Homo sapiens: one gene and its partners. The protein of the gene in region 1 purifies or fractionates together with the protein of each later gene. This does not show direct contact. Each region holds a gene or a part of one and is shown on either strand. Other genes may lie near its edges.

Region 1 (4,748 bases):
CATGGACTGGGTGATAACAGAAACTCATTTCTCACAGATCTGGGGGCTGGGAAGTTCAAGATCTGGGTGCCGGCAGATTTGGTGTCTGCTGAGGGCTCTCTGTCTCCAGGGTAGCACCTCACTGCAGTGTCCTCGTATGGGAGAAGAGATGGAAGGGGCTGGCAGAGCCCTCATGGCCTAGTCACCTCCCAAGGGCCCCACCTCCCCATATCATCATCTTGGGGTAAGTTCCAATTTTGGAGTTTTGAAGGGACACACACTCCAGCCACAACAGTGCTGGGCGTTGCCCTAGCTGCCCATCAGCCCATTGGTGAGGTGCTGGGATTCTACCCTGGGCGACCCTGAGGCATGAAGAGGTGGAACAGTTGTCCAAGAGCCACCTGGTGGGACGAGCAGAGAGCTGGGTCTCAGTGCTCAGCCCTGACTTCGGGCCCCGGAACCTTCCGTGGGAACCCTCCCAGAGAAGGGCGGGTGCACAACCCCGTGAGACGCCGGCGTGCCTCCTCAGCCTCTCTTGTGCTCTCTGGCCCTTTCCTCTAATGCTGCCTCTCTGGGATACCCACAGGGTCATTCTCCTCCATTGCCAACCTGCTTCTAGTGGCTGCTTCTGCACTGAGCCATGGTCCTCAGTCACAGTGGCAATTGGTAAACCAACAGAGGAGGTCACTTTCTGCTGTAACCGGAGATTGTTGTCGCTTCTGCACCAGAACACACTCACCAGTGTGCAGGCTGGGGTGGCTATTCCCTGAGCACAGGGAACACTGGACTTGGAGAAGGAAAGAATTTCTGGAAACCAGGCTGCTTTATGACTGACAGATTATCTTATTTTATTATTTAACGTATCTCATGTTTTCTTTTAAGGTCTCTATTGAGATAAAGAGTTCCAGGGAAAGAAAGGTCACAGTGCTCGGTAAACAACCCAGCAAACGGCGGCTCTGCTGCTGCGTGGGCCAAGCGGGTGGTCTGGGGCTGTGACGGCCTCTCAGTGTGTGATGAAGTTTCAGCGCCCTCCACAGTGGCAGTGCCAGCTTGGAATCCCGCTTCCGGTTGTGTTGTTCATTCTGGCTAGCTGAGTTTCAGTTAGTTCATGATCTGTTTAAACCAGAGTGAGTACCTGGAGACCTTGGTGACAAGGACCATGTGAGCCTGCCCTCCTACTGGCTGCGAGCCCAGGACCCCCGTGAGAAACCAGGAGCCTCTGTGTTCTCTGGTGACCACACTTCCATCCATCCAGTGCATGGCCGCCACGCTGCTTCTCTCACAGTAGGTCCTGGTGGTGACAGTCACATTCAGGACCTGCCCGCACTCCTCCCCCTCCACAAGTGTGACAGGCCGCGTGGTCAGCGAGTTGCCCAGGTCAGTGCCATTGCGTGCCCAGCCGCTGAGGAGGCCCCTGGTGCGTGGGATGAGGAGGTGCTCAGCGAAGTCTTTCTCAGGGGTGCACACGGGGAGCCCCGCACCTGGGCACTGGATGGGCCACTCCAGCTCCAGCAGTGACAGGTCATTCTCCCCCGCGTCCGCGTCATACCGCATGTGCACATGGACGTGCGTTATCTTGATCATCAGCGGGTCTTGGCTCGTTCTGTTAAAATCTGAAATCATGAACAATCGTCAGTTCTTTACAGTCTGATTTTCAAGGGGACATAATGCTCAAACGAGCTTCTCAGGGAGCCACGTGAGGAGGGAGAGACCGGCCCTGGAGGACCCGCAGGCTCACCGCCCCGTGGTGTGGACACTGTGCCTTTCTGCGGACAGAAAGGCCACTCACAGATTGCACGATTGCAACCAAGTGCCACAGCCTTTAAAAACAGTCAAGGTTAGTTCTTCTGTTTTGGAGTGCAGTGGGGTGTGGTGAAATGATTAAAAAGCAGGAAGCAGTGATGTGGAACGTCTCCAGGCCAGTCAAACATTGGCTGTTGAGAAGTGGTTTTCACGTTATTTTGTTGATTGAAAAATATTTAAGGGCCAGGCACAGTGGCTCACATCTGTAATCCCAGCGCTTCGGGAGGCCGAGGCAGGTCGATCACTTAAGGCCAGGAGTAAAGACCAGCTTTTCCAACATAGCAAAACCCCATTTCTACTAAAAATACAAAAAATTAGTGGGATATGGTGGTGCATGCCTGTAGTCCCAGCTACTCGGGAGGCTGAGGCATGAGAATCGCTTGAACCCAGGAGGCAGAGGTTGCAGTGAGCCTGGATCATGCCACTGCACTCCAGCCTGAGGGATTGAGTGAGACTCTGTCTCAAAAAAAAAAAAGAAAGAAATAGGCACAGATAAGCCGATGAGAAGGCCACTGCCTCAGCCTGAGGTCTCAACTGCTGGGGGATTCGAGCCCCATTCTTCCGATTTTTAGCCAATTATCCATCTCTTATGCCACAACTGCTCAATTTCAGTGGGAAATGAAGTCATCCTTATGTAGGCTGTGATTTCCTCCCTTGCCGAGTGTGAGTTAGCACTTGCCTGTCGCTGGGCCCAGGCTTCTGCTGGTATTTTACATATGCTTCCTGAGTTGATAAGTATCTCAGTTTTATTGACAGTAAATTCAGTTCTATGTTGCATTAGAAACAGTCCAGTTTTAAATTTGTCATTTCATTCTTACATAGGATAGTGTATTTCCAATGTGGTTTTATAAAAACTCATGATAAAATACTTACATGTTTTTACAGTAATATTCCTGTGTAACAGTGAACATTTTGCTGTTGTCAGTACAAAATTTTCCCGTATTATAACACCACCACAGAAGTCTTTTCCTTCGGAATTTGTTAACTTTACCTTTAAAAATCAAAACAGACAATAAATAGCTGGTGACAATTTGCAGGATTAGGGGCAGTAAAGTCTACTGGATAGGGATATGGACCACCCCCCCACCCCCACCCCCACCCCCCGCCAAAGGCAGACAGCCGTATTTGATTCTTGCCCCAGCACTCAAATGGTACAGGATTGTTAACGAATTGTTGACAGTCTAAGCTTTTGTTTGCTTAGGGATTAAATGGGGCCGGCACTTCCCCTTTCGGCCCAGGTGAAGTAACAGTGATCAGATTTACCCTCCCACCTGAAGCAAAAAATTGACAAAATCTATGGAATGATGGTTTTCAGGAATCGTAATCCCCAAGAAACAACGGTCTCAGCTACTGTCCAGAATTTCCATGGTGCAGAGCAGGACGGGGCATCTCAGTTGGAGCCCTGCTGACTCCCTAAATTGAAGAGAGAAAGCTGAGAGCCCAGGGAGGCCACAGTGGCTGGAGTTTGCAGAACAGAGTCCTGCAGAACAGAGTCCGGCAGAGGAGAGAGCTTGGTAGAGAATGCTGGAGGATGGCCACATGCCTAGCAGTTTTCAGCAGAGCAGTGGTGATCACGTGTACATGGAGACTAATTATGGCCGGGTAAGAACCACCCAAGAGTGTGAGAGGGACCTGTGCTAGACACTCACACAAGCTGGGAATAGCAATTGCTTCCACCAGCTGAGTTAAAACATCCCTGACTCAGTGGGGCACGGGGCAGGATGCATAGAAGGGTTTCACTTCAGTAGTCAGAATAACTAGCTCTAGACTTGAGCGCTGCCCTGGTCCTACTGACAAATCTTAAGAGCAATGTGCCAAAGGATGAAAGTATTTCCAACCTAACTGTGTCCTAGGACAATATCCAAGTGTATGTATAGAGCACAAAATATTCAGCACCTAACAGGATAAAATTCACATGTCTGGAAATCCATTACGGCATACAAACAGGAAAATGTGACCCATAATGAGAAGAAAAATATCCCAAAACTGAGTCAGCACTGACAGATATTAGTAGACAAGGACAATTAAACAGTGATTGTAACTGTAGTCCAAATGTTCAAAAAGTTAAGTAGAGACAAAAATACGTATTTTTAAAAACCTAAATTAAATTTTTGGATGACAGCTACAATATATGAGGTTAAACATCCACTGGCCAGGATGAATGGCAGATTAGACATTGCAGAAGAACAGATTGATGACCTTGAAGGCATCACAACAGAAACTATCAAAAGTAAAACACGGAGAGAACGGAGATTTTTGAAAAATGAACAGACCATCTCTGAGCTATGGGATTTCAAACAGCTTAAGATACATGTAATTAGAGTCCCAAAACAGAGCAGGGAGAAGGAGGAGAGAAAAAAAATCTGAAAATAATGGGCCAGGCATGGTGGCTCACGCCTATAATCCCAGCACTTTGGGAGGCTGAGGTGGAAGGATTGCTTGAGCCCAGGAGTTTGAGACCAGCCTGAGCAACATAGCAAGACCCCATCTCTACATGAAATTTAAAAATTAGCTGTGTGTGGTCGTGCACACCTATGGTCCCAGCTACTCAAGACGCTGAGGTGGGAGGATCACCTGAACCCAGGAGGTTGAGGCTGCAGTGAGCCATGATCACACCACTACACTCCAGCCCAGGCAATAGGGCGAGACCCGGTCTCAAAAAAAAGAAAATTATGACCAAATATTTTTCAAATTTGACAAGCGATATTAGCCCACAAATACAAGAATCTCAACAAACCCTATGTGCAAGAAACATGAAAACAATACACAGTATAATTAAATTCAAAATCCATGATAGAGGAAATCTTAGAAAGTTAAAATTAAAAAGCATTTAAAATCTTAAAAGTGCCACAGGTAAGGACATGTGAGGAACAGCAGCAGGGTGATGGGAGCCGTCTTGTGGCACAAGGCAGACAGGAAGGCAGTGGGGCAGGCCCAAGTGCAGAGAGGAGAGGACTGCTGCCAGC
Region 2 (3,050 bases), on another chromosome or scaffold:
TGCGTGAGTGCTTAAAATACATATTTCTATTTCAAGATGACATTTAAAAATTATTCTAATATATCAGCAGCAAAAATATAATTTGCAATTACAAAAAACTAAACTAGAATCCTTAAATTATTCTCATGTTTACAGTTGTGATTCTTTAATAAATACTATTATGCAGCTCTATTGTTTAAGCTTTCTGGATTTGGTTTAAACACATGCATATATATTGTCAATTGTGGGAAGCTTTACAAGTTATATTCCATGCACTTTTTGGACAGAGTTCTAACAGAGCCAGCCAGTCCACAAAACAGGCAGACAAAAGTTGAATTAACTGGGGCAAATAGGACTCTTATGCAACATCCAAAATATCTGACATTCTGCAGCAAACAGGGAGTACCTTCAGGATTGGCCTGTTATCTTCTTTAGAACTAAGTTCATCTTAAAAATTTAAGAAGGTGGACATTTCAACACCATCAAGTGCATTTAGGTGACATGTTTAAGTTAACTTGACTTCCTTGAATGACCTAGTTAGTAAACTAGTCACTAGTAATTCGGTCACCAAGCAAATCAAGCCTGCAAGAAAGGAAGCCAATATTCAAAATGCCATGTTACCATCTAAACCCATACAAATTAGTTTATTTCCAACAATAATAGGTAACTTTAATAATAAGACATCTAACTAAAGCAAGCTCCTCCAACAAGACCAAGACAGCATCTCTTCTTCTAAGGCTTAGGTTTTGCCCAGAATTCCCGATACATGGAATAGCCCATACCTAAAGAAAAAGAATGCTAGTTAAGCATTTCAGTATTTTCTTAAATATTCAAAAATAAAAACCAGTTCATAAAATAGCTGAAAGTAGCACCACTGCTAGCATGGAATATTTACAAGGGGAATAAGACCCTAGGAAGCTTATACTCTTGCCTTCTTAAACATCTTAAATCTCTAAAACTCTTGTTACATACAGTAGTTTCCCAAGTAGCAAAGGGCTGGTATGGCTACTTCACATGTTACAATATTTCTTTGAAAGAACAATCAATATTTATCTGGTAACTTTGAAAGGAATCACTCTTGCTACATAATACCAGATAAAGTCAATGAATTATAAAGCCAATAGAAGAAGCATGTAATACCTAAACTTTAAGAATCTCTCCTTTAAAAACACAATAAAATAGCAATTGTATGTCTCTCCCAGATAACAGATGTTACTATCAACCCCAATTACATGTCTAGGCTCTTCAATGAAATTATAAACTCAGTGATTGACAGGATTTTTTTTTTCTTTAAAATCTTAGTAGGATATATCATAGAAAAACTATGTCACTACTTGAATTATCTTCATTAATTCATTTTTTACATGAAAATGAGTATAAGTGATATTCTCCAACTGCTAAAAGGTCAGCTAAAAATATTTACCTATTTTGTTTGTAAAGAAATACCTTAATGAGAAACGAAAATTTGAAATTTCCTATAGGAACCTACCAACAGTCATTGCTCCTACAACAAAGCCTTGGGCTGCCACACGCATGTGGATCAGATGAATGGACATTTTAGTATTTCCCCTGCTCTTCAGTTTATATAATCCATATGCAACAATTGCTGCAAAACCCGCTATTCCTGTAAAACAAAGTAACAAGTATGTCAGATGCATGAGAAGGGACCAAGATGACTTTACCATCAGTCAATGTACATTCTATTATTTTTATGAGGATTCTTTATCAGATCATTAATTAGCTAACATACAAATTGAGTTTTTCATGTTTTCCCCTATCAAAACCAAAAATCTTTAAGCAAACAACAACAGATCCAGAAAGTCAGGATTATCTTTAAAAACATGGGTTTGTGGGGCCAGTAGATAAACTCCTTTAAAAAACTGCTAGGGAATTAACAGGAACCTAGATTATGATTATCAGAACGAAAGTGTGCCAAAGGTCTTGACTTAGAGAATGAATTTATTCCATTTCCTCTCTGTCCTATTTCCCTCCCTCAAGGTAATCAGTTAATATACCAGAGACAATCCTACACACTACTACCACTGAGAAACATTGCCTGAATATTTCAAACTTTGGGATATTGTACTGGGAAGAAGTAAATAAAGGAAAAGAATAGAGCAATATTAGTTTCAGTTAAAAGGATTATGATCCTAGAGTTCTATACAGAGCCAAACTCTCATTCATTTTGAGGGCAAAAGCATTCAGGACATGACCTTCCATGTTTTCTTTTTAAGATTTATTATTTTATTTTTTAAGAGATGGGGTCTTGCTCTGTTGCCCAGGCTGGAGTGCAGCCGCACAATCATAGCTCACTGCAGCCTTGTTCTCCCAGGCTCAGGTGATCCTCTTCGCTCAGCCTCCCTAATAACTGGGACTACAGGAGGGCTGTCTTTCCCAAGCTGCCACCCAGGTACTGATACAAAAACCTAGAGGAAAATATCCAGTCAAATAAAAACAGTGAGTCAAAATGGACAGTTCAAGAAATAAAGACATAATGGTTAAGATATAATGGTGAGCAATAAAGACAGAAAAATCTGTACTGGTTCCTTGAAAATGACTGGTATAATATAGCAAAATTAAGAATCTGAAATTAGGCTATGATTATCACAACAAAACGTGTGCTAAAGGTCTTAGGGAATAAATTTATATTCATTTTAATACAGGAAATAGATGAAAAAAACACATCCTAGTTTGACAATGTAAAGATAACCACCAGCAAGCAGTGTAAGAATAGCCGCAGAACTTCCAAATCATAAGGAGGAAAAAAAAATTAGGGCTGGGAGCAGTAGCTCACACCCATCATCCCAGCACTTTGGGAGGTTGAGGCAGGTGGATCACCTGAGATCAGGGGTTTGAGACCAGCCTGGCCAACAGCCTGGTCATCTCTACTAAAAATACAAAAAATTAGCCGGGCATGGTGGCATGCGCCTGTAATCCCAGCTACTTGGGAGGCTGAGGCAGGAGAATGCTTGAACCTGGGAGGCGGAGGTTGCAGTGAGCCGAGATCACACCACTGCACTCCAGCCTGGGCGACAGAGCGAGACTCCATCTCAAAAATATATATATATATA
Region 3 (4,037 bases), on another chromosome or scaffold:
GCTCTGCCTGTAACACTGGTGACTGGGAAATCTAGCAGGAACAGAAAAAGGGGCTGAGGGGTTCCCTTGTTAAATCCCTGGTTAAAAGGGAGGAGTGGGGAGAGGAGGCCGGGAGGAAGGAAGGGCTGAACCGGCTTGCTATGTGCCGATGCTGAGCAGGGCCAGCCAGGCTCTGAATTGGAGGGTGGGACAGGCCGCAGCCACAGAGCAACGTGTGGGGAGTCCAGCTTCTGTATTAAACTCCCCAAGGAAGTTAAACCCCCTGCTGGGAGCCTGCCCCCTGCAGCTCAGGGATCCCCCTGCATTCTTCAGATCTGAACCCCATTTCTGACAGCATGTGACCGCCACCCATAACAAAATTGCAACGTGCAAAGGGAAGAAGCAGGGTGCTGTTCTTTGGGCATCCAACCCTGGAGGGGGGCTTACCACTGTGCCCCACATCTGTCAACCCATGCCAGTCGGGAGGGAGAGAGGGCAAAGGGCAGAACACTCCCCGGGCACAGGAAAGAAAACAGAAGGGGCACAAAATTGGTTTCCTCAAAATCAAACCCTGGTCGGTATCTTGCCTGGTTTTCTTTCTAGTTCCTTTCACCTTCTGGTTTTTGTTTTGCCAGAAAAAGCTGGGGTGAAGTAAAGAAAGAAATAACAGAAAACGTTTCTTCCACTGTTTTTCTCCTGAGAAGACTCACAATCAGAACCTGGCCTGTGTTACTCAAGGCACAGACCCCACACCATGTCAGTTACACCACTGGAGGGGGTGTGGGTAGAGTTGCACAGCTGCCTGCCGGGGAGGAGAAACTGGCATCCATTGCTCTCAGGGTGCCCGAAGAGAAAATCAGCCCCTAAAACAACTATTTGTTATATACATTTTATTGAAAAAAAATTTTACAACAAAATATTTTGGCAAACTGTAAAAGTATACATAAGTGCAAATATATCCTCCTTTTAAAATACAAGCAAAGTGTGAGTATACACGGTCATAAAAATATCTTTAAAATATGGTGGTAGAAAACAACCTTGTAAAAACGTTGTATTGTCACAATACTGAAAACCACTTTCTTAAACTAGACACATTGTTTCTAAATAATTCCTTAATAATGTTCTTTGGCACCTGTATCCAAATGTAGTGTCTGGGGAAAATGACTCTCCCACTCAGCTAGGCAACAAGAAGAGGCTTTCTTGAAATCTTGTGCTTAGCACTGCCTTTTTGAAAAGCACACAAGTTTTCTTAGACACACACACACACACACAACTTGTCTGCTTTTTTCACACCCTGATTACTGAAGGCAACGAAGATCCCACAGATACACGTTGATGCCTTACGCATGGCACATCTTCCCACCTGAGTCTGCCCTCTCCCTCATGTGGGAGCCTGCAGGTATTCAGATTGGGGAACGCTACCTTGCCAGCGGTTGTCCTTCTTCCAGCAGTAGGCAAATAACAGTGACCAACGCGATCCTGGGCATTCTGGCTAAGTGGCAGGTGTGTGGCTTACTGCTATCCGCGTGCATGTGACTTGAATCCGTCCCAGTTTCTATCTGCCCCCTCTGAGGAGGGGAGAGGAGAGAGCGGCCATCGCTTGGCCTCTTTCCGTTCACATGACGCAGGGCTTAATATCCTGACAGACGCTCTGGTGGTGATGGTGATAATACGACCCGCTAGCTGAGGGATGGAAAGAAGAAATCCCATTGAAGTTGAGGACGAAATCTTTTCTGTCACACACTGGAGTAGAGTGATGCTGGTAACGGGGCAGTCCCACTGAAAGAAGAAAGAAAAAAAAACCTCTTCAGAAACAAAGTCATCCAGTGGATGGCAGGGTGTCTTATTTTGCCTCAGAGTACAAAAGGTGCTGCTGTGCCTTTTAGTAAATTGCTAGACAGCTGGTAGAGAAAGCCCAGCTTTAGAAGTAGCTCAAACACACCAACTGCACGTCATAGAATTGCTTTGGAATCATTATGTTTTGTTTTGATGCTCGCACAAACACAGAGCAAGTTCCCCCTCGAGGGGGATTCTTATGTCCTGGAATTCCAATTTTATTCTCTGAGGCTGGGGCGTGCACTTTAATCTCAGAATGAGCACAGGTACCGGACAACTAGACCCAGACTCTGGTTCCGGGTCTCTCCCGGCAGAGCTCCTGGCCTGTGCTGCCCTGAGCCCTGGCTTCAGGGAGGGCCAAGCACCCTACCCCAGAAACACCACTGCGGCCTTCTTTCTGAGCCTTGTTTCCCAACTAACTGGGCCGGTCACAGCAGCGAGCGCAGAGGACTCCCTGTGCCAAAGGGGACGATAGAAAACAACCCAATCGCAAGATGAAGGGATGGGGCAGAAAAGCACGCCTCTTCTCCTGCCCCTCCGCAGGCATCTTCGTGGGTCCCGAACGTCTTAGACTTCCTCTAGAGAAGCCGGGACTTCAGGGCGCAGAGAAATGCCCTTTGGTCCGAAGCATCTGGCAGCGCGAGGAGTCCCTGAGGTAGCCCCAGGCTGGAGGGGGACAGAGAAGGCCTGGACCCTGCTCTCCCGGGGCGGCTCCCCGGTCCCCGGCCTGCACCGGGCCGCTTGACCTCCACCCGCCGCCGGCTTTTGCTTTTGCTTTCTCGGCGCCTCCTGGCCCCGGGGCGCAATCGGCCCGCAGTGCCCTGCGCACTGGGCCCCAGAGGCTGCTGGACCGGGCCCTCTCGGCACCGGGCTGCGTTAGGTCCATTCGCCCGGGTCTTTTCTTAGTTAACCGAGTGGTGTGGGGACCATAAAGTGCACGTCGCTTCGGGCCGGATTCAGTTTTTCAGTGCAAGAAAACCGTAACCACGGCCCGCCGGGCTCGGGCCCTGCTCTCGTGGCCTCAGCCCCGCCGTGTCCCCGCAATGCCGGAGCGAGGCGGCTGCTCAGGGGCCGCTGCCTACTTCCTTGCCCGCAACACCTACCCGAACACACCCGGCGCTGCGCTAACGCAGCTGCCCTGTCCCGCGAGCCCCGATGTGTGCGCGGCGCTCTGCACACAGGTGAGTTCCCTCGTCGCGTTAAAGCAAGTTCTGATGGCAAGTCCTGGACCACAAAATAGCAGGCTCGGGAGGAGAGAGGGCGAGCGCTCACACCTGCCCACGAAGGCGGCCGTCGGCGCTTTGATGTGCTGAGCGGGATGACAGAAGCCCGAGCTCCTTCCTGAAGTGCTCGCAGGGCTTAATGGAGAACTCCAGGGCAGCCCCTGCGCCGGCAGGGGCACATGGACCATGGCCACCAGGCCCAGGAGCGGAGGGCGCGGCCCTTGGGGTGTGCTGGGGGAGGGAGGGTCGTGCTGGGTGTGTGCGCGTAGACATGTGCTGATCTGTGTGCCGGGGAGACTGCCTTGGCCACCCCCGCGCCTCGCCGGGCCCCCAGGCCTCAGTGGGCGGCGCGCTCCCAACTAGGCCCCGCGGGGTCCCGGTGCATCCGGCCGGCTCCTCCGAAGCCTCCACCGCTGGCGCTCCAGGGAGATGGCAACAGGGCCGGGTGGGTATCCTATAGGGACGGGAGCAAGACAGCGAGGAAGGAAGGGCAGAGGGTCCCTGTCGGGCGTCAGGCCCGAGCTATTGTCTCCCCCGGGCGTTCCCAGACTCGGTCGGGGGTTCTGCGAGGCTCCCAGGGAAGGCCGGCCGCGGGAGGCCGCTGGGTAGGGGCACAGAGGCCGGCTTGCTTTGCTGGGCAGTTTTCACCCCCTCCAAGACAGTAATGTATCCAGATTCCGAAGTTTTGGGAGCTTGTGCCTGCGCCCAGTGTTATGAGGTGGGGCGAGAGCAGCCTTGAGGAAGGGTCAGGAGTCTCTTTCCTGTGTGCTTTTTTTTCTTCCTAGAGTACGGTTTCTCCAAGGCTGCTAAGCCTCAGAGTCCGGGTTCAAGTTGAGTGGATCTGCCGGGAGAGGAGAAGAAGGGGAGCAGGGAGGGCAGCTGGCAGGCTGGGAGAGGAGCAGGCAGGCGGGGAAGGGAAGGGGCCAGTGCACCGAGGGGTGTGTGTGTGTGTGTGTGTGTGTGTGTGTGTGTGTGTGTGTGATTGACAGCCGGTCCAAG
Region 4 (4,528 bases), on another chromosome or scaffold:
CTCCAACCCCAGACAATGCTTGAGCATCTGTGTGCCACAAACAGCAGAAAAAGCAGCAGACTGGCCTCCCTCTATGGAGCTACAACCTCTTCCCTATTTTGTATCTGGAGCTTCCTTAGTTCTTTAAGTGTCTGTTAGGGGCTCTTATCTAACTGGTCGAAGGTTACTAGCTTCCAAGTAGAAGTTGGCCTGAGAAAACCCTGTCTAAAAAAATCAGGACCTAGGTGAAGTCTCCAGCCCCTGTAGCAGCCAAGTGCTGGGACATCTGCAGTTCCTTTGTTATTACATATTTGGGGCTGGCTGTACTTTCTTTGATGCACTTCCTTTCTTAGTGGAGAGTCTGCTAGCCAAACTGATAATGGACCTCCTCGGGGTTTATTGTTTTTATCAATTCCTTGTTGCTTCCCATATTTAAAGCAGTCCCAGTTTGGGCTATGACTTGGGAAAAAATCCAGGTGTGGTTCAGGCGCCCATAAAGACCACACGAGACTTCAGGTAGGGGAGGAGGCACTGCCCCTTTGCTGGAAGCAAAGTTGAGACAGGCCTAAAGACTGTCCCATCTGTCAAATAAGGTGACGAAAATAACCTTGTATTTGATTAATCCAATCTACAAACTTGTGCGTATGTTAAAGGTTGGTGGTCATAAAACTGAGTAAAGGCACGGTGGCTTGTCCCTGTAGTCCCAGCTACTGGGAAGGCTTAGGCAGGAGATCAAACTCAGGAGTTTGAGTCCAGCATAGGCAAGACCCCATCTCTATTGAATTTTTTTTTTTTTTTTTTTAGTAAAACGATGAAATCTTCTAGTAGTGGAGACACTAATGAAAAGATAATTTAACAATTTGATCAGCAATGGGGAAAGACGGGGCTCTGTAAGGACAGCTTCCAGGAAAACCCAGTCTTGTGTCCTGTCCTGAAAGTGACTCTAGCGACAAAGGCTGGAGTGATAATCTTAACTTTTTAATCCATTTCCTTCTGGTACCTCATTACTCTGACTTTTTAAAGGTACTTCTTTGAGTAGAACAGCTAACTTTGTCTACTGTTCCCCACCGTCCATTTTCTCCCCGCTCAGAAGATCCCAAGCTTCCGCACTCCTTTATTGCACCCGCCCAGCCTCCTTTAAAATGCATAAGCCACGCCCCCCATGTTCTGGCGCTAAGTTCGGGCCAATGCAGTTGCGCCGCTAGGATCACAGGACGAAAGAAGTAAAGTCACCAGCCAATAGGAAACCAGCTACAACGCAAAGCCGGAGAAAAGTGTTTTAGTGGTGTCTTTGAACCAATGAGGAGCAGAGCAACAGGGACCGTGCAGCTTCCAGAAACACGTGACCAGTTGAGCAGACGCAGCCTAGCCCTACCTCCTGGTCTGGAGGTAGCGCGATGGGCGTCGCTCCCAATAGCTTGCAGAACCTCTAGTCACGTGCAGGTTTTGCAAGCCCAGCAGCATCTGGCAGGTCATGTGACAGTTGACGTTTGTGCGTCGCTCCCCAATGGAAAAGGAGAGCTGCCTTCACAGGACCAGGAATTGGTTTATCTACGCGAATAATAGCATGACCCGGGCGGGGATAGCCTATCACGTGCTGCTAGACGGAACGGGGCGGGGCAGGCCACTGGTTGCGGAGTGAGCTGGGCGCGCGGCGCGCAGGCGCCCTGGGGACCCGGTAGCGGCGGTGGCGGTGGCGGCGGTGGCGGTGGCTGCGGCGACGGCAGAGGCGAAGGGAGCCGGATCGCCGACCTGAGCGGGAGGCGGCGGTGGCGGCCATGGCGGCAGATGGAGAGCGTTCCCCGCTGCTGTCTGAGCCCATCGACGGTGGCGCGGGCGGCAACGGTTTAGTGGGGCCCGGCGGGAGTGGGGCTGGGCCCGGGGGAGGCCTGACCCCCTCCGCACCACCGTACGGAGCCGGTAAACATGCCCCGCCCCAGGGTAAGCCGGGGCGGGTCCGAGGTGCTCCCCGGGGTACTCTGAAAGCCGGGGAGGGGGCGGGACCGAGGGCGGAGGCGGGTCCCAGTCGCCAGGTGCGGGACTGCTGCACCTGTGACTGGGCGAGGCTTCCTTCCCTCCGTAATCGCGACCACAGCCTAGGGACGGAAGGGGGTTCTGAGCAACCTGATAGAAGTGCCAATTATGAGAAGCCCTCCGAGCTTGGTCAGAGGGTTGAAGATCAGAAGGACTTCCCTACCACCGTGGAGCATCAGTGGGGGTGTAAGTGATCCCAGCCCTTCTATTTGCTTCCTCTCCAGCATTTCCCCCGTTTCCCGAGGGGCATCCAGCCGTGTTGCCTGGGGAGGACCCACCCCCCTATTCACCCTTAACTAGCCCGGACAGTGGGAGTGCCCCTATGATCACCTGCCGAGTCTGCCAATCTCTCATCAACGTGGAAGGCAAGATGCATCAGCATGTAGTCAAATGTGGTGTCTGCAATGAAGCCACCGTGAGTTACACATATCTATGAAATGGGCCCTGTTTCCTGGATCCTCTTTCTGATGTCTTGGTTCTAGACCCTGACCTTCCGGCTATTAGCCAAGTGCTTTTGATGATACCCAGGTTTCAGTTCCAGGTGTCTCACACAGCCATTTCCCCAGAAGCCACTCACCAAAGCTAATGTTCACTTTCTCTCACTTTTACACCTAGCCTAGTTCCTATTTGCAAATCTCATGATATAGTCTTTCTTTTATTTCTCCTTCCTGGTTAGCACCTTATTTTTCTGATCTCATAAAGTGTTTTTGGAGGGAAGTGGAGGGGATTGGGATTAGAGGTTTGCTTGCTGATGACCCTATTATTCTCTAGCCAATCAAGAATGCACCCCCAGGGAAAAAATATGTTCGATGCCCCTGTAACTGTCTCCTTATCTGCAAAGTGACATCCCAACGGATTGCATGCCCTCGGCCCTACTGGTAAGAGGCATAAGGTGGGGAAGGGCCTAAGTGGGGAACTGGAAAGTCAAAAAAGGATGAGCGTATACAGAGAATGTAAAGGTGAGAGAGCCTAGTGTTTATTTAGGAGAAAAGGCTTTGAAGCATGTGCCTCAGGAATGTTATAGCTGTCTTTCTCGTTTCTCAATAAAAATATTGAGATGAAATGATGTCGTTTCGGAGAATAGAGAGCCTTGGGGACTGGGTGTGTTATCCTGAGGTCGGAGGGGAATTGGGGACCTGAAGTTTAAACAGTGCTCTTTCTTTCTCAAGGATTCTTGAGGGTATACAGTTGGGGGACAGAGTATCTTAAGTACAGAGAAGTCGAGTGACTTAATAGACAGGGAGTGGGGGATGTGGAACAGGGACTGTGAAGATTTTTAGGATTAAAAATTTTTCAAACACAAGTTTGAAAATACAAGTCTTTTTCTTTTGTATAGCAAAAGAATCATCAACCTGGGGCCTGTGCATCCCGGACCTCTGAGTCCAGAACCCCAACCCATGGGTGTCAGGGTTATCTGTGGACATTGCAAGAATACTTTTCTGGTGAGGAAGGGGTATTGGGAAGGGGAGGGGAAAGGAGACTAAGAGTCATTTCGAGTATATTTCTTAGAGTAATGGTAATGACCCCTGAAAGGTCTGTCCTATGGGAACATGTTCTGCATCCCCACCCCAAGGTTCTCATTGAGGGAGACCCTGCTTGTGCTATTATTTTTGTTTTCTTTCTCCATAGTGGACAGAGTTCACAGACCGCACTTTGGCACGTTGTCCTCACTGCAGGAAAGTGTAAGTGATTAGGGATTGAGCTGGTAATTGATGTATGGAGTAAAAACTACAAGGCCATAGAAAGCATCCATTTCTATTTGCCTCCCCACAGGTCATCTATTGGGCGCAGATACCCACGTAAGAGATGTATCTGCTGCTTCTTGCTTGGCTTGCTTTTGGCAGTCACTGCCACTGGCCTTGCCGTGAGTACCCTTGCCCCAACCTCTTTCATTCTGCAGCCTCATCTCCATAGGCTAAGATTTGGGAAACTGCTACCCTAAAAAAAAGTGGAAGAAACTTGGGGGACTAGTTTGTTTTGTTTTAAGATATGGATGAGCTAAAGTGCAAAGTGGCTGATCAAACAGACTTTATTACTACTACAAGAGTGAAAAACAGCCTTCCTTTCTCTGTAGGATGAGGATAGGACAGTGAAATTCTTAATTTAAGAGTTGCTATTTTTCAAACCTGGCTCAGTTGTCAGATATTAAGAAAAACTGAGATACAGTGTGGGATGGGATGAGTATGTTACGCCTAAGGGAAGGAAGCTGATCAGCTCTGCCTTTAAGAAGGTCCCTGAGGGTGGCTACATGTGGATAAGGAACAAGGACTGAAGCGTGAGTTATTACTGTTCTTAGAACTAATAGGAGGTAGTGGAGACCAACATTAACCCCATCTTTCTTTTCTTCTCCCTCCTTATCTTCATCAGTTTGGCACATGGAAGCATGCACGGCGATATGGAGGCATCTATGCAGCCTGGGCATTTGTCATCCTGTTGGCTGTGCTGTGTTTGGGCCGGGCTCTTTATTGGGCCTGTATGAAGGTCAGCCACCCTGTCCAGAACTTCTCCTGAGCCT
Region 5 (4,009 bases), on another chromosome or scaffold:
GTTTGTCTCACGCAATCGTTTTCAAATCAGGAAAAATATAAAAGTGCTTAACAAAATGCAGAGCCAAGCTTACTAAAGTTAGAGAACAACTGTAAAACCAAAACTTTACTTATGCTTCCCTGACCACACACCCCAGCCTGGAATTATTCTTTTTAAAATTGCAGAATATTCTTTATGTTGAAAAGAAACTTGAAATGCAAAATACTGTTTTTCTAAACCAGCCACCTTAGTGCCCACAGATCATAGAATTCATACATTCTTTTCCCTGTGTGTAATGTAATACAGATGTACTTACAATACTTTAAAAGTGTTTCCAGCATTCAAGGATTAAATGCTTCACATCTTTTAAACATTATTTCTCTTTGAAATAAGCAGTGTTTTTTTCAAAGTTAGTAGCAATTATATAAAAAAGAAAAATGAGATTATATCAGATACCCAAGTAAAAGATTAACTTACAAAGTAAAATATAAAATGGTGATAACTAAATTTTTCTTGGGAGGAAATAAGACCTGGACTCTCAAACAGGAACTTTTCAAGTGGCATCCTACAAGCACTTGGCAATAACTTATCTTCTGTGCATTTTAGCTAAATCATAAGGCTTCTAATGAAAGGCATTTTTCAAATAAGGGAATGTTTTTTACTTGTTTCAGTTTTTGGTAAATAATTTTCAGTGCATATTTAATGTTTTAGGTATCTGATTTCTTTTTGTAATATTAAATCTTAATTGGGTTTCTCTAGATTTCCAAAGCTGAAACCAAGAAGCAACAAAAAGAGTTCTTCAAAGGCCACATGAGAATCAGAGCCTAAAATTATTGCTGATATAAAATATGTTCCTAGCAGAGGAATGTTCAGAGGTACATAAAAATTACTATGCAACAAGTTAAACATGCTTTGGATCCTAAAACTGTAATGATTACACTTATTTGGATCCTGAAACTGTAATGATTACACTTATTTGGATCCTGAAACTGTAATGATTACACTTACTTGGATCCTGAAACTGTAATGATTATACTTAAAAAAACTTGGTTCCTGTTTTACATGCTAAGCAGGCACTTAAAAAGCACTAAGGATGCAAAGATTTATAAGAGGCTTGTCAACTGATAAATTATTTTAAAAATATTTTATGCAATGAAAATCTGGTATGTTGTGTGGTTTTGATTAGAATCAGTGGATTTTATTTAGTGTTTAGCCTAAAATGTTGCAAACTTCTAATCAGCAATACGCTATTGAGTGTCAGTAAGCTTCTGGGCCACAGCTTTCCAACCTGTTAAATGAAGCGTTCAGATTTCACTAAATAATCTTTTAGCTGAAATTCTGAATTTCTTAGATTTTTCTACTACAAGTGGTTACTCTTAATCTACCATTAATATTTATCAGTAATTTAAAAGTAAATTTTGTAAACTGTTCATAAAGAAAGCCTATCAGACACATATGGGGTTAATATTTTATGGACTTGGAATTTAGTTAAATGAAGCAATAACTTTTACTGGTTGTTTGGGTTTGGAGTTTAACGCTGAGTTAAAGTTCCGGCTCCATCATTCACTGGTCTGTGATCCTGGACAAGTTACTTAAGTTATTTAATCCTCAGTTTCCATGCTTGAAAATGGGGATAATGACAGTATCACTTCAGAGAGTTACTGTGAGGGCTAAATGATAAAACACAGAAACTGCTCACTCATTTATTTAAGCCCTAAGCACATGTGTTTGTTTTATATTTTTATTTACCAAAAATAACAACACTTTCCTATAGAAACTCTAGTTCAGGACAAAGTCACTGGATTTCATTAGCAGTGAACATACTGCCTTTATGTGCATTTTGCATTTTAAATGTAGCCTTACAACTTTCTGTATGACCTTCAAATCATTATTTTATTGTCACATTTACTTCCAAGAAGATAAAGGTACTTTGAATGTTTCTGTTTCCACTATCTTGAAGCAAGTTTTAAGAGCCCAGCTTTGCACTGCCTAAAACACTTAGGTTTAGCTCCTTTGCAAGCCATTAAGCTACTGAATCCTAAGGGACAGCTTTATCTTTTTGAAATTTTCACAAACTCTGGTATTTCCATTAATATAATGTCTCTGCTACCATAAGACAAACTACTTAGGTTTGGAGGAATTAAGATACTAACATTTGTCTTTTCTCTTGCCCTCTGGGACCCTTCTTAGACATTTCCTCTTGTTATTTCACTTGCTCACCCTCACAGGTTCACTGGCTGACCCTGCTCTGGGCAGCCTCATGGGCGCATTATGAGGGCAGAACGGCTCAGTGGGCCAAACAGGTGTTACAGTGACATATATAAATAAAAGTTGTCATGATAATCAAGGGTGTGCTTTTAATCTTGACTCTGTCACTAACTTTCAAAGAAACAGGCCAAGCTCTTGAACTTCTTTCTCTGTACTTTATTAGCAAATTAGTGTGCTTTAAAAAAAAAAAAAAAACCTCCTCATAACCACAAAAGACAAGTTTTTAAAGAAACGAAATCACAAACCACTTTATGTCCCATCTGATCACTGACACTCCATGGATCATCGCCCCTTCCACCTGCTAAAAAATACCAAAACTAAGTTTGAATTTCTCCAAATTTAGCAATCTAGTAGCAGGCCCTAGGCCACAGTATTTTTCCACTAAAATAAGATCATTGAATTAGGTGATCACTAAGATCCCTTCAGCTCTAAATTTCTACAATTTTTGATACTTAACTATATTTTTTCACAGTTGTATTTATTTCTCAATCTAGGTTTCTAGATTAAAAGTTCAACTAAATTATTCCAAAAAAGTTTTAATTCTTCTTTTATTTAAACTTTAAAAGGTATTATTTAAAATTTCTCCAAATAATACTTCTGTGTAACAATTTTTGCAACTCCTAATGTTCAAGTCATATAGAAAAGGATTTTGCCATAGTTAATCTTTTTCTCACCCAATCTCTCTTAGTTTTCATATTTTAAAAATCACAGTAGTTAAGTTAGTGGTTTGATGCACTTTGTTTTGGGATTTTTATATATCCACATAAATGAGGACGATACCTGCTTGACATGGAGAGTAGATCATGAATTGTGTAGTACAGACATATGTCTTAATTCAGAAAGCTCACCAGTTCAGAACTGCATTTGGTAAATTATCCTATTCTAACCATGATATTTAAACTATGGATGTGGTTAAATAAAATGGCCAACTATATATTTTAAAACCTGTTTTAAAGAGGGGCTTACAAGGCTCTGACTTGTTCTAGATATTATTTCTTTGAAATCTTTTCTGATTTTCGCTGGTAAATTCAATTACTTTTAAATCCACAAGGCTTGAGTTCCAGTCTTATCACTGGTCCTTATGAGCTATAACTCCACAAGGAGACTCAGTTTTGCCCATCAATATAATGGTAGGAAAGATACCTACTCATGGGTTAGTTTGTAAGGACTATAACAGGTGAAAATGTTTCCAAAGTGTAACTTGCTAAGCTAGCATCAGTAATAAGATTTTATACTCCAAAAGTAATTTGGCACTCCTAGCAAGGAAATGACATACTTATCAGGAATTATATTTATGATTTATGACAGAGACAGAGACTAGTTAGTAGAAAAAGCATGAACTGAACTCTTGACAAACAGGTCTGAGTCCAAATCTTAGCCTTATAAACTGTACAAACTTAGTTTCTTTGGGTAAGTCAATTTTTCAGAGCCTACGATTCCTAATCAGGTAAAGTAGAGAAGACATAGTACATACTTTATTAGAATTAATGCATGTGAAAATGTTATAAGCATTAGCCTGGCATTTATTCTTCAATTGATTGCTCAAATATTTACTTAGTGTCTACTATGCACAGGTAGTCTGCTAGGTAATGGAAGTTCATAGAAATAAACCTTGCACTTTATGGGGGGAGGCAGACAAACAGCTATTGCATTCATTGGCACAAGTATCATGATAGAAATGTAAAGTGACACTGGCTAGTAATGGTTTTTCCTTTCTATAGTTAGTACTCTTTTCAAGATCTCTTGTAAGGCAGGTCTGGTG
Region 6 (4,009 bases), on another chromosome or scaffold:
TGGTCTTTTGTGTCTGGCTTTGACATGTACTCTTAAAGAATCTTCACAATAATCTTGAGATAGAAATTTCCACCTAACTTGCGTCTCTGGCTTCAGTTAGTTTTAACTGGTAGCAGCCATTCACTCAAGAAAATGGAAAATCTCCAGAACTGTTAAGAGACCTATTTCCTTACTATGTTGGTACCTGTACAATAGGAATAACAATGCATGAGGGTGGGGGAGCGAGGACGGACTTGGCAAATTCTCTGGCATGACCACCCCAGCACAGTGTATGATGAACAACAAAACCAACTCTCAGCAAACATTACTTAAAAGTATTTTTTTATTTAATTTCTGAGGTAAAATACTTTTTTCTTTCAACTTCCATAACAAAATACAGAGCTATCAGATACCCCTGGAAAAAATATGTATATTATACATATATTTCTATAACATTACATCATATATATATAATATATATGCAAAAATTTGAAGACTTTATAGAAAGCGGAACATCTAAAAGGCACTGCACAATGGAGTTAAGATTACTTACATTTTATGTACATATACACACTTTACTCTGCTCAAGCAGGTAACTAGTGAAGTCACCTTTCACATGTAAATGTCTCATTCACAAATCCCTGCATCACAATTCTATAACTCAAAGAATGCTTAAATATCTCAAAACAAATTAACTGGTAACTTTTTATCCCCCTAAGAAGAAACCAAGAATGGAACAGTTCTTGAAAGATTGAATCAAAGTTGTCTTCTAAACAAAATAAAAATGTACGTTCCATTACTGTTTACAAAACAAAAAGCACAAACATAATTATGGAATAAATAAAAAACAAGGGACAAACAGCCAACTGACTCTACCCACTTGGTGAGAAGTGATATACTTCAACTATTTTTTTAATGCTTCTGAAAGTTTCTTGGCCCACAGAGGACTAGGGTGCAATCATTCCCTGTGTTAGTGAGTTGGGTTTAATGCAGCTTCAAAATTAGGGTAAAGGGACTTGGTGAAATGTTTACATTAAATATTTCACTCCTACCCATTCTTCAGGAAAAAAGGTGAGCTCAGCAAGGCTGGATGCCATTAAGAGATATTTACTGTTTTCTTTTTCTATAGCTAAAAAAGCAAACTTTACACGAAGAAGCTCTTGATTAAGGAAATTTCAATAGATTCATATTTATAAAATTTTAAACATTTGGCACAGCAAAATTTGGAAAAAATGGGGGAGAAAAAATAGGTCTGGTTGTTGTCCCCCTTTTTCCACCTGCTGCTGGACAGTGATGAGATGCTCACAGAAGAAAAAGGCCTGGCTTTGTACCAGGCTGGCGACAGGTGCTACCAGGAGTGGGCTGAGGGGAGAAAAACTATCTCCCACTCTTTTGGCCCAGGCAATGTCAACGACTTCCACATTCCCTGGCCCACTTCCTGAGCAACCCCAGGTTCGGCTCTGTATAAGGACCCTCCCCTCCCAACCCCAACCCCAGAGTGCAGTGCAAATCAACCAACAATTTACTGGTGGAATGGCAATCAAAGGAAACAGTTAAACACCAAACAATTTCTTAAAGCCAAAAAATATTTTTCATGGAGTTGAACATTTTTCGAGTGTGTTTTTTTCAAGTGTAAAAGCAGTGACATTTTGTTCAAACAGAAGCAGCATCTAGGAATTCTGGCACTTGGGTTCTAGGGGGTTACAGGTATGCATCATGGATTCTTCTCCCTCGTATTTAAAAAGGCCTCGTGTTTCTATTCCTGAGTTCATACCAACACCTGCTAGCTCTCCCCTCTAGCGGACAGTGGGTGGCCAGCCAGCCTCCCTGGTTAGATTGGGCAATGCCAAGCAGACATCCCTCATTCACCTGCTGGGCTTGCTTTCTGATTCAGAGGTAAGTCGAAGTGCAGAGAAAGAAACTTACAAAAGCACAACCACCAAAGGCAGCCTGAACGGGGAGCCCTGTGCAGACTGAGTTGCTGGAGACTACCCTCTCAGTCCCATTCCTGGGGAAAGGTAGGTCACTCATGGAATTTGAATCAAACATGGGGGAGGACACCTGCCAAGCAATAGTATGATGGACTCAAGTCATCCCAGGCCATCTACTGTCTCCCTCACCTGCCCTAACCTTTTCTGAGTCCCTCCCTCTCTTGTGCAAGCACTGTAGTTTAAAAAGGAAAAAACACCCCCCACCATTAAAAGACAACCTTCAAATGTTACTCAGTATATAAAGTTTGCTTAGGCTAAGGTGGAGTCAGAAATGTCTCTAATTGTAGACACCATCTCTGTGCCACCCTTCCTCTCATCGGATATGGAGTGATTTCTTCTCTCGCTGCTGCGACGCAGATCTGAGCCACAGTCAGGTACCAATGTACACGACATAGGCACATGTGCAAACACAAAGAAGGTGGGCTGCTGCTTCTTTCTCTCTGCCCCTAGTCCAGGCTCCTTTGCTTCACGTAAGATTAACACTTTCCCATTCCTCTGAAGTTGCTGGAAGGACATTTCCCAGGAAGAAACAATTCCTCACTGCCTATAAACTGTAGTCTCATGTGGGATAGTCAATTGAACATGAGAATCAGAACAATCTGGGCAAATGGGTATGGCAAGAATGGGAACACCACAACAGGACAGATGCCAACTCTCATTCATGCCAGGCCTTTTGGCATCTGGGTGCCTTCTGTGTCTTCTTTCCACCTCTTCCTTCAGTCTCAACATCCACTTGTACCCCCAGCTACCTCCCATGTTTCCAGGTATCATTGGCTCTTAACTCCCACAAGCCTGCCTTTTGGCTACCCATCCCAACAATATCAAGAGGGAATGACTAAGTATCAGCTAGAAACTTAGCCATGTCTCAACATTCCTGGATTATCTGAAAAGCTGTCGATGCCCTTTTACAGGTTTATGGTGACAGACCCGTATCATCTTAAAGTATGTTCATAGTTAAGGCTTGACTTAAGAAAATAAGAGAACCAGACATAATGGAAAGACCTCTTCAATAATGTTGTCATGCCTCTCAGTGAACGTGCTCACAGTCACACTTGGTTTGGCTCCCCAAACCCACAATAGAAAAGGAAAAATGAGTATTTTGTTTTTCATCTGTTTTGTATTTAAAGGCATTGGGTTACTTCCTCCTGCCCTCTTTTCTTCCCTGAACAAGAGTTTACAACTCCTCATGGCTTCTTAATAGGTGAAGTAGGTGAAAAGTCTGAGAAGCTCACAGCAGGGTTTGCCGTCCCAACTATGCAGCTGAGAGGTCGCCAGCTCCTGTGCCTTCCCAGCCCCACTATAATTGGCAGTATGTTTGTTCATGTTTCCTGAAAACATTTTCTTTAAAAAGGAAAAGAAAAAAATGCCAAACAACACCAACCAAAAAAAAAAAAAAAAAAAAAAGAAGGAAGAAGAAAAAGAGCAACATCCAAACATTCCCCAAGCCCCACCCCAGTAAGTCTGAGATTATCTTATTCCTTCCCTGAAATAATTATAAAGAAGCATTTCAGGCAAAATACTTAGTATTAATGGTCTCTTACTGCTCAACCTCCCAACCATGCCCTTTTCCCTTTTATGTGTATCTCTTGGAGTAAAATAAATTCATTAATGGCTTTCCACATACAAATACAATAGAAAAGAAAGAAGTCTGGAACCTGACTATCATGGGACCAAAAAGTATCTTGGCCCTTTGGGAGTTTCCTTGTCAGAAAGTATAAGCCTCAACAGGAAATAGAGGCTCCTTCTCCTTTGAGTTCAATACCCTCCCTGTGTCCTACTCACCAGGAAAATAAGTGTGTTCATATCCCACCTAATTTACAACAGAAGATAACCCCATCCCATCCCCAAAACATAAAAATACAAGTCTATGCCCCTAGAATGATCAAACCAGTTTAACTCCCTCCCCCCCACCCTGAAATCTTGCTACATAAATACATGTATGTATTTGATTATAGTATAAACAGCTCCTAATCCACTTCCAGTTCTAAGCATCAGCAGCTGCTGTTGCCAAGCCCTGGGGTCCTGACCCATTCCAGAGA
Region 7 (4,009 bases), on another chromosome or scaffold:
GCTGAGATAGCGCCATTGCACTCCAGCCTGGGCAACAAGAGCGAAACTACAGCTCAAAAAAAATAAATAAACAAAATAAAATAAAATAAATTCAAAAAATAATCAGTTTTTGAAAGGGCAGAAGACAAAACCCTGGGGATAACCTACATTTAAGGGATCAACAGAAAAAGAGGAACCTACAAAGGGGACTACAAAAGAGCAGCCAGAGAAGCAGAAGGAAATGTCACCAAAGCCCAAGGATGGGCTGGACGATATAAGAAGCCACAAAGGGGTCAGGTCAGCCCTGAAAAGTATCCATTCAACTGTGCAGTAAAGGGGCCAATGGCGAGCTTGGCAAGAGCAGATTCAATGGCGTGGAGGAGCAGAAGCCGGAACACAGCCGACCGGGAAATGTTTAATTAACAGGAAGTTAGCATAAAGAGGCAATGAGAGCAGGTGATTTTCTAGGTTCTTTTCAGAAAGTGAGCTATGAAGTAAGGAAGAAAGTGTGAGGTGTTATAAGGAAAGAGGATTTTTTACTTATCTTTTTTTTTTTTTTTGACTCAGAGCCTCACTCTGTCACCCAGGCTGGAATGCAGTGGTGCGATCTCAGCTCACTGCAGCCTCCACCTCCCGGGTTCAAGCCATTCTCCTGCCTCAACCTCCTGAGTAGTTGGGACTACAGGCACATGCCACTACACCCGGCTAATTTTTGTGTTTTTGAGACAGAGTCTCGCTCTGTTGTCCAGGCTGGAGTCTATCTCAGCTCACTGCAACCTCTGCCTCCCAGGCTCAAGCGATTCTCGTGCCTCAGCCTCCCGAGTAGCTGGGATTACAGGCACGCACCACCACGCCCGGCTACTTTTTGTAGTTTTAGTAGAGACGGGGTTTCACCATATTGCCCAGGCTGGTCTCGAACTCCTGGCCTCAAGTGATCCACCCGCCTCGGCCTCCCAAACTACTGGGATTACAGGCGTAAGCCACCCTGCCCGGCCTATTTTTCATTTTAAGATGGAAGAACCTTGAATATGTTTATAACTTGAGGGAAAAGTGAAGTTGAGAAAAGGCTCAGGAAATGAGGGAGAAAGCCAAGTGATAAGGCAGTTCCTTGAAGAAATAGAAGGAATAGAATCAAGTGAACAGGTTAAAGGGACTGGCCATCAACAGAAGTTAATGAGCAAGAAAGAGGGTAGTGGCAGGGGAGTTTGTATATATAAGGACACCTAAGCAAACCAAAGTCAATCAGGCTGTAGTGCAGTGGTGTCACCACAGCTCACTGCAGCCTCGACTTCCTGGGCTGAAGCAATCCTCCCACCTCAGTCTTCTGAGTAGCTGGAACTACTAGTGCATGCCACCATGCCCAGCTAATTTTTTGGGTTTTGTAGAGATGGGGACTCACTATGTTTCCCAGGCTGGTCTCAAAGTCTTGGCCTCAAGCGATCCTCCTGCCTCGATCTCCCAAAGTGCAAGGATTACAGGTGTGAGCCACTGTGCCCAGCCAAGAATTTTTAACTGGGTTTATTTAATCTAGAGAAAAGTAGTTGCTAGGCGTAAGCTTAACAACAAGCTTGTATCTATATTTTAAAAGTTAGGGCCTGGCATGGTGGCTCACACCTGTAATCCCAGCACTTTGGGAGGCCGAGGCAGGCAGATCACCTGAGGTCAGGAGTTTGAGACCAGACTGGCCAACATGGTGAAACCCCGTCTCTACTAAAAATACAAAAATTAGCCAGATGTGATGGCGGGTGCCTGTAATCCCAGCTGTTCAGGAGGCTGAGGCAGGAGAATCGCCTGAACCCAGAGGCAGAAGATGCAATGAGCCAAGATCGGACCACTCTACTCCAGGCCGGGCAACAAGAGTGAGACTCTGTCTCAAAAAAAAAAAAAAAGGCCAGGCACGGCGGCTCACACCTGTAATCAGAACTTTAGGAGGCTGAGGCAGGAAGATCCTTTGAGCCCAGGAGTTCACGAAAAACCTGGGCAACACAGGGAGACCCCATCTCTATAAAAAAATAGTTTTTTAAACAATATATTAGAACCCTTTTTCAGACCCTTTCCCAACCATTCAGCCCAAATATCATTAGGTGGGAGCAAGTAAGGTAACCTAGAGTAGGGTGCTGGCATCCAAGCACGGTGAGGAGGACATCCTTGCAGAGAGGCTGCAAGAGTGATGGCAGAGCATGTCACAGCTTGAGCACAATGAAGAGGGTGAGCCTGCAGAGGGGGACCTGGTGTGGGGTACCAGAGCCCAGGTAAGGTGAGGGGAGCATCCATGATGCATGAGGGGTGGCAGCCATAGGAAATTGGTCACATACAGCGGAACTGATTAAATAAGTCAATATATTAAGGAGAATGGAGCCAGTTGGAGAAGGGAATTACAAATATGGAAAGGAAGGAAATGAGAATGAACCCCGTGGTGGCTGAACTGGAATTGGAGCTATCAGTGCGATCCCATGGTTTTCATACATACATCTGTACAAAGATTTAGAAATAACATATATGTACGTATATGCACATATATTTCCCAGCTCCTCCACTAAGAGGGTATGGGAGCAGTGATACCCAGGAATAATGACCACTCCCAACGCACATATCTCCATTTCAAAATATCATCCTCCACTTCAAAATATCATTCTCCATTTCAAAAAAGGGCTCCTTGGAGATGTGGGTGATTCTAGGACTGGGGCAGGGAAAAGCATAAGATGAGCCTAGAATATTTTATTGTGCCAGAAAGTGAGAAAGTGCTCAAAGAATAATGGGGACACATCAAAGAAAACCACACAGAAGCTAGCCTGAAGGGACTGGGACACTCCTGGGATCATGTGAACATCAAATAGATGATAGTAACATATTATAGTCCATTCAGTAACATAGGAATTCCTGAGTCCATACTGATTTAAAAATAATGAATTGAAAGTCTGATGAAGGTCTCAAAGTTACCTGCCACCCCCCCCCACATAAGGTACTTATTAATTACAAAGGGGAAAAGAGTAACTTTACAGTGAAGAACAGTGGCAGACATCATCGTCATCCAGTAAGCAAAGCTGATATCATCAGTAATGAGACAAATCAAAACCATGCACCACTTGATAGGATACAATAAGAACAGAGCATCCCTTCTGTGACATTCCTGCCAGAGATGCATAACCCAAAGCTAATCATGAGGAAGCACCACACAGACCCAAATTGAGGGACAATACACAAAAGAACCATGTCAAAGTCACGAAAGTCAAAGAAAGATTAAGGAACTAGTCCTGACATGACAATTAAATCAACATATGATTCAGAACTGGATCCTTCTGCTATGAAGGACCACTGGCAAAAGTTGAATGGGACCTGAGGATTAGACAGTATGACACATCAGTGTTAATTTCCTGATTTTTTATGGTTGTTTTGTAGTTATGTAGAAGAATGTCCTTGTTTGTAGGAAAGACATATTCAAATATTTGGGGGTGATGTGGCATCATGTCAGCCACTTATTCTCACATAATTCAGGGACAAAAAATTTTTTTCTTTTTTATTTTTGAGACGGAGTCTCACTCTGTCGCCCAGGCTGGAGTGCAGTGGCGCGATCTCGGCTCAATGCAACCTCCACCTCCCAGGTTCAAGTGATTCTCCTGCCTCAGCCTCCTGAATAGCTGGGACTACAGGCGTATGCCACCACGCCTGGCTAATTTTTTGTATTTTTAGTAGAGATGGGGTTTCACCATGTTAGCCAGGATGGTCTCGATCTCCTGACCTTGTGATCTGCCTGCCTCAGCCTCCCAAAGTGCTGGGATTATAGGCGTGAGCCACCGCGCCTGGCCACAGAAAAATTCTTTATACTGTATTTGCAACTTTTCTGTAAGTTTAAGACTTTCTTTTTTTAAAGTTACTAGTAAGAAAGATTATTCAGACTATACCTCCATTAAATAGGAATCTACATTTATAAGAAAAAAATTATGACAATTCAGAAGTAGTAGATGCCATTTTTTTTTTTTTTTTTTGGAGATGGAGTTTCACTCTTGTTACCCAGGCTGTAGTGCAATGG

Evidence for each region.
Region 2: the proteins of PROZ (region 1) and HIGD1A purify together in Homo sapiens (affinity purification with mass spectrometry; one large-scale study listed by BioGRID and IntAct). This does not show direct contact.
Region 3: the proteins of PROZ (region 1) and FOXF2 purify together in Homo sapiens (affinity purification with mass spectrometry; 2 studies listed by BioGRID and IntAct, with this or other methods). This does not show direct contact.
Region 4: the proteins of PROZ (region 1) and PIP4P1 purify together in Homo sapiens (co-immunoprecipitation; one large-scale study listed by IntAct). This does not show direct contact.
Region 5: the proteins of PROZ (region 1) and ZNHIT6 purify together in Homo sapiens (affinity purification with mass spectrometry; one large-scale study listed by BioGRID and IntAct). This does not show direct contact.
Region 6: the proteins of PROZ (region 1) and ETV3 purify together in Homo sapiens (affinity purification with mass spectrometry; 2 studies listed by BioGRID and IntAct, with this or other methods). This does not show direct contact.
Region 7: the proteins of PROZ (region 1) and ACOT9 purify together in Homo sapiens (affinity purification with mass spectrometry; one large-scale study listed by BioGRID and IntAct). This does not show direct contact.

What each region holds. Positions count from the first base shown.
Region 1 is NC_000013.11:113,168,438-113,173,185, reverse strand, and holds the end of PROZ (vitamin K-dependent protein Z isoform 2 precursor), read right to left. Parts: intron 3,385-4,748; exon of another isoform or gene 3,098-3,384; intron 2,774-3,097; coding exon 2,656-2,773; intron 1,817-2,655; exon of another isoform or gene 1,593-1,816; coding exon 1,081-1,592; 3' UTR 800-1,080; downstream 1-799. UniProt on the Homo sapiens protein: Appears to assist hemostasis by binding thrombin and promoting its association with phospholipid vesicles. Inhibits activity of the coagulation protease factor Xa in the presence of SERPINA10, calcium and phospholipids.
Region 2 is NC_000003.12:42,784,560-42,787,609, forward strand, and holds part of HIGD1A (HIG1 domain family member 1A, mitochondrial), read right to left. Parts: intron 1,604-3,050; coding exon 1,469-1,603; intron 762-1,468; coding exon 712-761; 3' UTR 1-711. UniProt on the Homo sapiens protein: Proposed subunit of cytochrome c oxidase (COX, complex IV), which is the terminal component of the mitochondrial respiratory chain that catalyzes the reduction of oxygen to water. May play a role in the assembly of respiratory supercomplexes.
Region 3 is NC_000006.12:1,392,417-1,396,453, reverse strand, and holds the end of FOXF2 (forkhead box protein F2), read right to left. Parts: intron 1,759-4,037; coding exon 1,595-1,758; 3' UTR 851-1,594; downstream 1-850. UniProt on the Homo sapiens protein: Probable transcription activator for a number of lung-specific genes. Mediates up-regulation of the E3 ligase IRF2BPL and drives ubiquitination and degradation of CTNNB1.
Region 4 is NC_000014.9:20,458,555-20,463,082, reverse strand, and holds the start of PIP4P1 (type 1 phosphatidylinositol 4,5-bisphosphate 4-phosphatase), read left to right. Parts: upstream 1-1,648; 5' UTR 1,649-1,757; coding exon 1,758-1,899; coding exon of another isoform or gene 1,900-1,920; intron 1,921-2,237; coding exon 2,238-2,428; intron 2,429-2,784; coding exon 2,785-2,891; intron 2,892-3,349; coding exon 3,350-3,455; intron 3,456-3,642; coding exon 3,643-3,695; intron 3,696-3,786; coding exon 3,787-3,877; intron 3,878-4,380; coding exon 4,381-4,524; 3' UTR 4,525-4,528. UniProt on the Homo sapiens protein: Catalyzes the hydrolysis of phosphatidylinositol-4,5-bisphosphate (PtdIns-4,5-P2) to phosphatidylinositol-4-phosphate (PtdIns-4-P).
Region 5 is NC_000001.11:85,659,730-85,663,738, forward strand, and holds part of ZNHIT6 (box C/D snoRNA protein 1), read right to left. Parts: intron 2,549-4,009; coding exon of another isoform or gene 2,530-2,548; exon of another isoform or gene 2,389-2,529; intron 1-2,388. UniProt on the Homo sapiens protein: Required for box C/D snoRNAs accumulation involved in snoRNA processing, snoRNA transport to the nucleolus and ribosome biogenesis.
Region 6 is NC_000001.11:157,120,887-157,124,895, forward strand, and holds the end of ETV3 (ETS translocation variant 3), read right to left. Parts: coding exon 3,955-4,009; 3' UTR 305-3,954; downstream 1-304. UniProt on the Homo sapiens protein: Transcriptional repressor that contribute to growth arrest during terminal macrophage differentiation by repressing target genes involved in Ras-dependent proliferation. Represses MMP1 promoter activity.
Region 7 is NC_000023.11:23,726,146-23,730,154, forward strand, and holds part of ACOT9 (acyl-coenzyme A thioesterase 9, mitochondrial isoform a precursor), read right to left. Parts: intron 1-4,009. UniProt on the Homo sapiens protein: Mitochondrial acyl-CoA thioesterase. Catalyzes the hydrolysis of acyl-CoAs into free fatty acids and coenzyme A (CoA), regulating their respective intracellular levels. Regulates both mitochondrial lipid and amino acid metabolism.